Linked DNA regions of Homo sapiens. The protein of the gene in region 2 purifies or fractionates together with the protein of the main gene of each other region. This does not show direct contact. Each region holds a gene or a part of one and is shown on either strand. Other genes may lie near its edges.

Evidence for each region. The genes of interacting proteins can lie anywhere in the genome.
Region 1: the proteins of REST (region 2) and HNRNPA0 purify together in Homo sapiens (affinity purification with mass spectrometry, with the first as the bait; one large-scale study listed by BioGRID). This does not show direct contact.

Annotation. Positions count from the first base shown.
Region 1 is NC_000005.10:137,744,287-137,748,556, forward strand, and holds the end of HNRNPA0 (heterogeneous nuclear ribonucleoprotein A0), read right to left. Parts: 3' UTR 1,365-4,270; downstream 1-1,364. UniProt on the Homo sapiens protein: mRNA-binding component of ribonucleosomes. Specifically binds AU-rich element (ARE)-containing mRNAs. Involved in post-transcriptional regulation of cytokines mRNAs.
Region 2 is NC_000004.12:56,916,954-56,922,078, forward strand, and holds part of REST (RE1-silencing transcription factor), read left to right. Parts: intron 1-2,833; coding exon 2,834-2,917; intron 2,918-5,125. UniProt on the Homo sapiens protein: Transcriptional repressor which binds neuron-restrictive silencer element (NRSE) and represses neuronal gene transcription in non-neuronal cells.

The sequences.
Region 1 (4,270 bases), on a different chromosome or scaffold from region 2:
CCTGGGCAACAGGGCAAGCCCTTGTCTTTAAAAAAATATTTAAAAGATACAATTTTTTCATCCCACTACTTTAATATACTTACATATTTATTATGTTAAATAATATATTTTTTCATTACAATTTCTATTGTGGTAAAATATACATTAAATTTGCCATTTTAGGCCAGGTGTGGTGGCTCACACTTGTAATCCCAGGATTTTGGTAGGCTGAGGTGGGAGGATCACTTGAGCCCAGGAGTTCAATACTAGCCTGGGCAATATAGCAAGACTCCATCTCTACAAAAAGATTTTTTAAATTAGCTAGCTGTGGTGGCGCGTGCCTGTAGTCAGTTCTAGCTACGGGGGAGGCTGAGGTGGGAGGATCACTTGAGCCCACAGTTCGAAGCTCCAGTGAGCTATGATCATGCCACTGCACTCCAGCCTGGGCACCAGAGTAAGACCCGGCCTCCAAAAAAAAGAAAAAAAGCCATTTTAACCATTTTTAAATATACGATTCATCAGCATTAAGTACATTCATAATGTTGTATAACAATCACCACTATCCATTTTCAGAACTTTCTCAACATCTGAAAAGAAATTCTGTATCCCTTAAACAGTAATTTCCCATTTCTATCTCTCTGAATTTGCCTACTCTGGGTACCTCATTTAAGTGCAATCATAGTATGTCCTTTTGTGCAGGCTTATTTCACTTGGCATGTTTTCATTCATCTTGTAGCATATACCAGAAATTTATTCTTTCTTATGGCTGAATATTCCATTGTATGTATATACCACATCTTGTTAATTCATTCACCTGATAACACTGAGTTAATATTTCACCTTTTGACAGACCACAGTTAACATTTCCCTAATATTTGACATTTAGTTTCCAATTTTTTGCTACGTCATAATTTTTATGCAAAGACTGTTTTCCTTTCAATAAATTTTTCAATAAACTGTTCTGTTAAGGTTAAATTCCTAGTAATGGTGTCCCAGAGCATATGAATACTTTAATAGTTCTTAATAAATAAATCCATAATTTTACTCTCCTCATTTGCCATTTTTCATAACCTGATGGACAAATTCCGGTCAGCAGTTTGTTACAAATGTATAAAGTGTGACAAAACCAAATGGAGGGAAGCTTTTGGAGAAAGAAAAGGAATTAACAAAGCAGAAACAGCTCAGAAGAGCTCTCCACTAGACAGAGCTGGCTGACTTCTGTGACAGGTTGCCCAACTGCTCCTTCTATCCATAACCTGATGTTTTCCAATTAACTTGGTGACTCTTTGAAAAAAAAAAAAAAAATCTGCCTGTGTCAGGGATCCCCCGGACCAAGCCCATATTGAGATTTGATAGAAGGGTTCACAAAACTCAGCACTGCTAAGTATCGTACTCATGGCTAAAGTTTATTACAGTGACACAGTAAGTGTACACAGTTGGATCATACAGGAAAAAGACATAAGCAGAATCTGGAGGAATCCATGTGCAGGCTTCTTTAGGATCTCTCCCTCCCATGAAGATTCACACAGAGCACATTTTTATACGAGGGATGTTTCTGCCTAGGGACTCAGTATGCAAGGTTTTCATTGGGAGTTTGGTCATATAGACATCCTTTACCTGGCATGTACCAAAATTCCATACTCCCAGAAGGAAAGCAGGTGTTTAGCATAAATCATCTTGTTTGAACAGTCTAGGTACAGTGAACCACCTTTATTAGTGAACAGTGAGAATACCCCTAAATCCACGTGTTCAGATAAGGGCCAACCATGCAAGTAGGCCACTCTAAAAGATACCAGCCTCAGGCCAGATATAACTTTTTCTGCACACCCCCAATTCAAGATTCATTTTGGCCAAAAAGCAGCATCTCTCAACATATATATGTAGATACCTATGGTAGAGTTGAAAAGATTGTGGATCACTTATACCTTATCCAAGTAGTTCTGATTGCTTTCCTTATAAACCTTCATTGAAAGCAGCTGTATGAAAGGAATAGGAATTTTGGGAAACACATCTTTTAAAATTCAAATCAGATCATGGAACTCCTCTGCTCAAAACTGAAATGGTTCACCATTCATTTAGTGAAAACCAAAATCCTTACAACAACCTACAAATCCCTACATGATCTGGCCCCTCTGGCCTCATTATTCCTTTCCTCCTCTTCCTTCAGGTCCAACAACCCTGAACAATTTGCATTTCTTCAGAGGCCAGACACAGTCCTGCTTCAGGGCTTTTGCTCTTCCTAATCCTCTACCTAGAATGCTCTTCCCATACCTATATTGCTCACTCCCACATTTCCTTCAAGTCTTTGCTCAAATGTCACTTTCTGAGAGACCTACCCATACCACCTATTTTAAAGTATGCTATCCTCACAAACATCCCTTGCAACAATCGCCATTCCTCACCCTAATTTTTTCTATACTTCTCATCTTCTAACATACCATATAATTGATTATGTCTTATTGCCTGTCTCTCCCCAGTAAAATATAAGCTCTTTGAGGGCAGGGATTTTTGTCTTTTTCTTCTGTATTTCCAGCACAATCACCCAGCAGAAGAGTAACAAATTTTAACTTGACATACTAAGAAACAGGGAGGCACTGAATTTAGGGATAGTAACCTAGTGCAAATAGCTAGATCTTCACGTTTGGTGGTGTGGGAAGATCAAGTCATAAGAAAATGTGAAAGAAGTTTTTTTTTTTAATTTCACTGAAGAGATGACCACAGTATATTCAGTTATTGAAGAGTTTTAATAAAAGGAACTATTTACAAGGGTATGGGCACAGTTAAGGCAAATCAACAAGGTTTGAACCTTCTTGGGACTAGAGAATCTAGCAATAGGAGACAGTTACGAGAAGCCAGAAAAGACCTAGAGCTATAAGAGGGCCACTGGAGCAGAGCTGTGGCCACTCACAATCTCTTGCTAAGTATATGAGAAAGAGAAGGAGCAAATATTTCAGCCTCACTTTTCTATCACTGTCCAAACCCACCATGAATAAAGCCAGAAAAGAGAGTATGCAGTTCTTTATTTGTCAGCCTCCCAGGAACACAGAACAAGAGAGATAAAGATGGAAAATAGATCAGGAAGGGCAAAAAGAATATCCAGCACAATGGCCATTTTGTAAAGCTATATGCGCAAGACACAATGCTTCAATGTGCTACCAGCATCTTCAACTATGTCCAAATCTTCCCTCTAAATCTTCTCTTCCTATTACCAGTGGCATCACCATCCTCTCACACAGTAATTTTGATTAATCTACTCTCTCTTCCTCATTCTTCATATATCCAAATATTTGTCAATTATGCTTTCACAACTTACCTCAACTTCTTTGTCAGTCTATTTCCATTGCTCTTTGTTCATGCTCTCATTCTCTTACCTGGTTAACATCAGTTGTCTTAGCAAACTTGCCACTTTGAAACATCCCCCACTGCCATTTATGTTACTCAGTGCTACTGGACTAATCTTTGTGAATTAGTTTCACTACCATTATTGTTGCTCAAAAACCTTTAATGACTTTTACTGCCTACCCTAAGTCCAAACTCCTTAGCCTACTACTCAAAGACCTCAGTAACCTGGTTCCAACTTCATTTTCTCAATTTATTTCTCACAACTCTCTTTTATCTTAGTACAAATTAGACATTTGTTAGCTGGAAGTCAATGAAGCTTAGTAGAAGGAGCGAAACAACTAGAATTGGTCAAACTTGGATTCAACTCTCAGTTCTACCATGTCACCAGCTGGGGGTCCTTGGGAGTTACTTTTCTGGCATGAGATTTAGCAACCTTATCTGTGAAGGTTACTGAATGATGCAATGAGAACATTTGTAAATGTACCTAGTGTTTGGCATCCAATATGCATACTTCTCCAAATACGCTCCATGTTTCTGCCTATCTGTCCTCCACCTAAAATGCCCTCTTTCTCCTCCCACCTTCTCTATAAGACCTATCTTTTAAGGTTAAATGTTATATGCTCCACAATGCCTCTCTTGATCCTTCTTCCTACCTGAAGTCACCTCTCCTCAACACTCACATTATTTATACCTTCCTAATATTAACAAATACTTAAAACATTACAGATGGCTAGCAGAATTCATCTCTCTCCTACTAGAGTTGAAGCAGCAGTGATTTAGAGAACTACCACATGGAAGCTCACCCAGCAAGTAAAGAGCAAAGCCTAAAGACCATGCATATCTCGGGTACTAAGATATAAAAGTATGCCTTTTGCTAGTCTGTCCCACCTCTTCATTAGGGGCCATATAGTAAAATTACTGTGTACCAGAGACTACAGTAAGCCCTTCT
Region 2 (5,125 bases):
TGCCATTTTACAATCCCACCAGCAATGTGTGAGGGTTCCAATTTCAGCACATCCTTAGCAATAATACTGTTAACATCTGTCTTTGTGATTACAGCTATCTTAGTGGATATGAAGTCTTCATCTCCTTGTGGTTTTGATTTGCATTTCCCTCACTGCTAATGATAATGTTCATCTTTTCATGTGTTTATTGGCTATTTGTAAATCTTTTTTTTACAGAATTCCATTAACATAAAACTATCTTAATTGTTCCAGGTCATAAGGTAGGCATTCTGTTGCTACCAACTCTTTACAGCTAATTCGTAGCTACCAGCGAATTACAGCAGAATAGTTATGAGGAACACATTTCCCATCTATCACCATTCTTTTTGTTGTTGTTTGTTTTTTGTTTTAAGACAGGGTCTCGCTCTGTTGCCCTGTGTGGAGTGCAGTGGTGTGGTCACGGCTCACTGAAGCCTCGGCCTTCTGGGCTCAAATGATCCGCCTACCTCCCAAAGTGCTGGGATTACAGGCATGAGCCACCATGCCTGGCCTGTTCTTTTTTCTGTGTACCACCTTTTCCTTATTTTATTAGACACATTTGTTTCTGTCTTAGACAAAATTGATAGCTTACATTTATTGAGGGCTTTACTATGTGCCAGACACAGTGTTAAATGCTCTGCATGTATTATTTAAGCTTTTGCAATTACAGGAAATGAAGATTCTGTTACTTTTACAGATGGGGAAACGGTGTTTTAGTAGCTTTACCAAGGTCATAATTATCTTGTGTTTGGAGACTATATTAAAACAAATTGTATACCTTTTTTTAAAAGCTTGTTTTGCCGGGTGTGGCGGCTCATGCCTGTAATCCCAGCACTTTGGGAGGCCGAGGTGAGTGGATCACGAGGTCAGGAGATCGAGACCATCCTGGCTAACAAGGTGAAACCCCGTCTCTGCTAAAAATACCAAAAAATTAGCCGGGCATGGTGGCGGGCGCCTGTAGTCCCAGCTACTCAGGAGGCTGAGGCAGGAGAATGGTGTGAACCCAGGAGGCATAGCTTGCAGTGAGCCGAGATCTCACCAGTGCACTCCAGCATGGGCAACAGAGTGAGACTCCGTCTCAAAAAAAAAAAAAAAAAGGCTTGTTTTGTTGTTGACAGCCATGTCTAAAAAGAATATACGTTTCCTACCTTTGAGTCTTAAATTCTTCAGTATTAAATCACTGGCCTCTAGTCTTCAGTCCCTGTGGCTTTTATAATTTGTTTTAAAAATTGATGACTGGTTGGGCATGGTGGCTCATGCCCGTAATCCCAGCACTTTGGGAGGCCAATATAGGCGGATTGCTTGAGCCCAGAAGTTCGAGACCAGTCTGGGCAACATGGCAAAACCTGGTCTCTACCCAAAAAAAAAAAAAATTAGCTGGGCTTGGTGGCACACGCCTATGGTCCCAGCTACTTAGGAGGCTGAAGTGGGAGGATCTGTTGAGCCCGGGAGGTCCAGGCTGCAGAAGCTACGTTCATGCCACCACACTCCAGTCTGGGCAACAGAGCGAGACCCTGTCTCATAAAAAACAATAAAAAGAAAATTGATGACCTTCTCTTAAATTTTTCTTTTTAGCTTAATGTTTTTTATTTATTTTTATTTTTAGAGACAGGCTCTCTCTCTGTACTCCAGGCTGGAGTATAGTGGTGCCGTCATAGCTCATTGCAGCCTCAAACTCTGGGCTCAAGTGATCCTCCCGCGTCAGCCTCCCAAGTGAGACTACAGGGTCTCACTTTCACCCAGGCTGGAGCACGGTGGTACAATCATGGCTCACACCAGCCTCATCCTTCTTGGGCTCAAGCAATCCTCCCATCTCAGCCTCCCAAGTAGCTGGGACCACAGGCATGCGCCACCACGCCTGGCTAATTTTTCTGTTTTTTGTAGAGAGGAGGTCTTGCTATGTTGCCCAGGCTAGTCTTGAACTCCTGGGCTCAAATGATTGGCCTGTCTTGGCCTCCCAAAGTGTTGGGGTTACAGTCAGGGGCCACAATCCCCATGCTCAGCCCAGGCTATTTTTTTTTTTTTTTTAAACGAGATGAAGTCTCACTCAGCCTCCCGAGTAGCTGGGACAACAGGCACGTACCACCATGCCCGGCTAATTTTTTTTGTATTTTTAGCAGAGATGGGGTTTAATTATGTTGGCCAGGCTGGTCTTGAACTCCTTACCTCGTGATCTACCAGCCTCAGCCTCCCAAAGTGCTGGGATTTCAGGCGTGGGCCACCGTGCCCAGCCCCAGGCTAGTTTTTAAAATAAAATTTTAGAAATGAGGTATTGCTGTGTTGCCCAGGCTGGTCTGGAACTCTACCACTTGAAAATTTTTAGCATAAAGCAATTACATTCTCACTCAGAAGTATTGTTTTAAGCTAACACTTTCAAATGGTAGTAGATTCATCATTTACAAGTTAAAAAAAAAACCTAAAAACCGGTGTTAATAGCATCAGACAGTTCAGGTAGATTTTTTAAAAGGTGATTCTTAATATAACAAAAATGCTTTGTACCTTATCAAGATAGTTTTTTACTTATCACTACTTAATGTATTAACATGCAGTATCACTGTGAAAATTAAAAGGGCTGTGAGAATTCGGAAAGTCAATGTTGTTTTCTTGTCAGCAAAGCCAAAATAATGTAGTCATAGTTTCTGAAATAAATAACTTACATTTTAAGTACATGATAAATTGATCTTTTTGCCAGAAATAGGAAAAAAAAATTCTTGTTAAAATGTGCTGAGCGCTGAACATTGTTGCATTGTTAGTGAGAATTGTATTTGGCTATTTCGTGACATTTAAACACTCTTATATTATTGAAATTTTGCAGGAGAACGCCCATATAAATGTGAACTTTGTCCTTACTCAAGTTCTCAGAAGACTCATCTAACTAGACATATGCGTACTCATTCAGGTTGGTAAGAAATTGGAACTTTTCTATCATTTTCAGTAAATGACCATTTTAAGGAAATTCTTTTAGACTTGTAACCGAGTCATTTACTTATTATTTATTTTTAATATAATTTAGAAGTCAGAATTTAAAAATCAGTATTCCGTCAATCTGGGGATTCCTAACATGGAATCCAAAGGTGGACCTCCTGAAAATGGAATTTTTGTGTACACTTTTTCTGGGAGGAGGGGCCTTAATTCTCATCAAATCTTTGAAGCGTTCCGTGACTCCAACAAAAGTTAAACTAATGTAGACCAAGACTGATTGATCTTTTAACCCCTACTTCTCATATTTCTCCTAACAGTATAAAGCTGAGAGTCACAACGTGTGGTTGACAAGTGTCAGGGATTCCTTCTTAGCTTCTCAGGTCCTGAAATGAAGGTTTGTTCTGTTTCAAGGTTTGGTCGAGCTTTTGAGGACTGACTGCAAAAGTTTAGCTTGAAAAAGAAAATGATAGACAATCTAGGATGCCAATTTATTAAGCTGTATTAAGAGTATAGGACTGTAACATGAGAGATTCGTCCACTCCAGTGACTGAAACAATCACCATCACCACTCATAATTAGTCCCTGTTGGCCAGCATGGTGGCTCACGCCCTTAATCCCAGCACTTTGGGAGGCCAAGGTGGGCGGATCACCTGAGGCGGGGTAGTTTGAGACTAGCCTGACCAACATGGAGAAATCCTGTCTCTACTAAAAATACAAAATTAGCCAGGCGTGGTGGCGCATGCCTGTAATCCCAGCTGCTCAGTAGGCTGAGGCAAGAGAATTGCTTGAACTTTAGGAGGCAGAGGTTGTAAGCCGAGATCACGCCATCAAGAGCGAAACTCTATCTTGAAAAAAAAGTCCCTATTGTCAAAGTATTCAAGTGGCCAAGTTAAAAAGTAATGTTAGCATTGGTGGTCTTGCTTGAATGGGTAGCCCTGATTGACTCTTGGTGAACTACCACTTTTACTTTTTATTTTTATATTTTTTTTGGAGACGGAGTCTTGCTCTGTCGTCTAGGCTGGAGTGCAGTAGTGCGATCTCAGCTCACCGCAACCTCCGCTTCCCAGGTTCAAGCGATTCTCCTGCCTCAGCCTCCTGAATAGCTGGGATTACAGGCGCGCACCACCATGCCCGGCTGATTCTTGTATTTTTAGTAGAGATGGGGTTTCACCATGTTGGTCAGGCTGGTCTCGAACTCCTGACCTCATGATCCACCCACTTTGGCCTCCCAAAGTACTGGGATTACAGTCATGAGCCACCATGCCTGGCCGAACTACCACTTCTAATTAGAATACAGATTTAGAATGTATATCCCTGTGGGAAAAGTATCTTAAATCTTGCTGTTACAAAAGCCTATGTAGAACCATCTCCCTTAAGTTAATAATTAGCTTAGATCTGTGCTATTCGCTTGAGTAGCCACTAGCCACATGTGGCTATTAAGCTTTCGAAACATTAGTAGTTTGAATTGATACTTATAAAATATGTACTTACCAGATTTTTTAAATTTTATTTTATTATTATTTTTTTTCTGTTGAGACAGAGTCTTGCTGTATCCCCCAGGCTGGAGTGCAGTGGCGCGCATCTCAGCTCACTGCAACCTCTGCCTCCGGGGTTCAAGCAATTCTCATGCCTCAGCCTCCCCAGTAGCTGGGATTACAGGCATGTGCCACCATACCCAGCTAATTTTTGTAATTTTAGTAGAGATGGGGTTTCGCCATGTTGGTCAGCTTGGTCTCGAACTCCTGGCCTAAAGTGGTCTGCGCATCTTGGCCTCCCAAAGTGCTGGGATTACAGGTGTGAGCCACCGCGCCCGGCCACAGATTTCAAACAATGTGAAGAAAAGACTATCTTTCTCTGAAGCAGGTTAGAGAAAAAATAAAAGAATGTTAAATATTTATTTTTCAAGTTGATCATATGGCAAAATTATTGTATACATTGGCTTTAAAAAGTAATAAAATTAATTTTAACTGTTTCCTTTTTACCTTTGTGGTATGACTACTAGAAAATTTAAGATTACATGTGTGATATGCATTATATTTCTACTGGACATTGCTGCCATGAGTTAGTAACAAGACTTGATAATAAGACTTGATTATGTCACAGATTCTGATTTATTTGAACAGCTATGAAGGTGTCCTGTAGTATAGTTGCTAGCCTTTCTTGACCCTACGTGCTTGTCACGCTA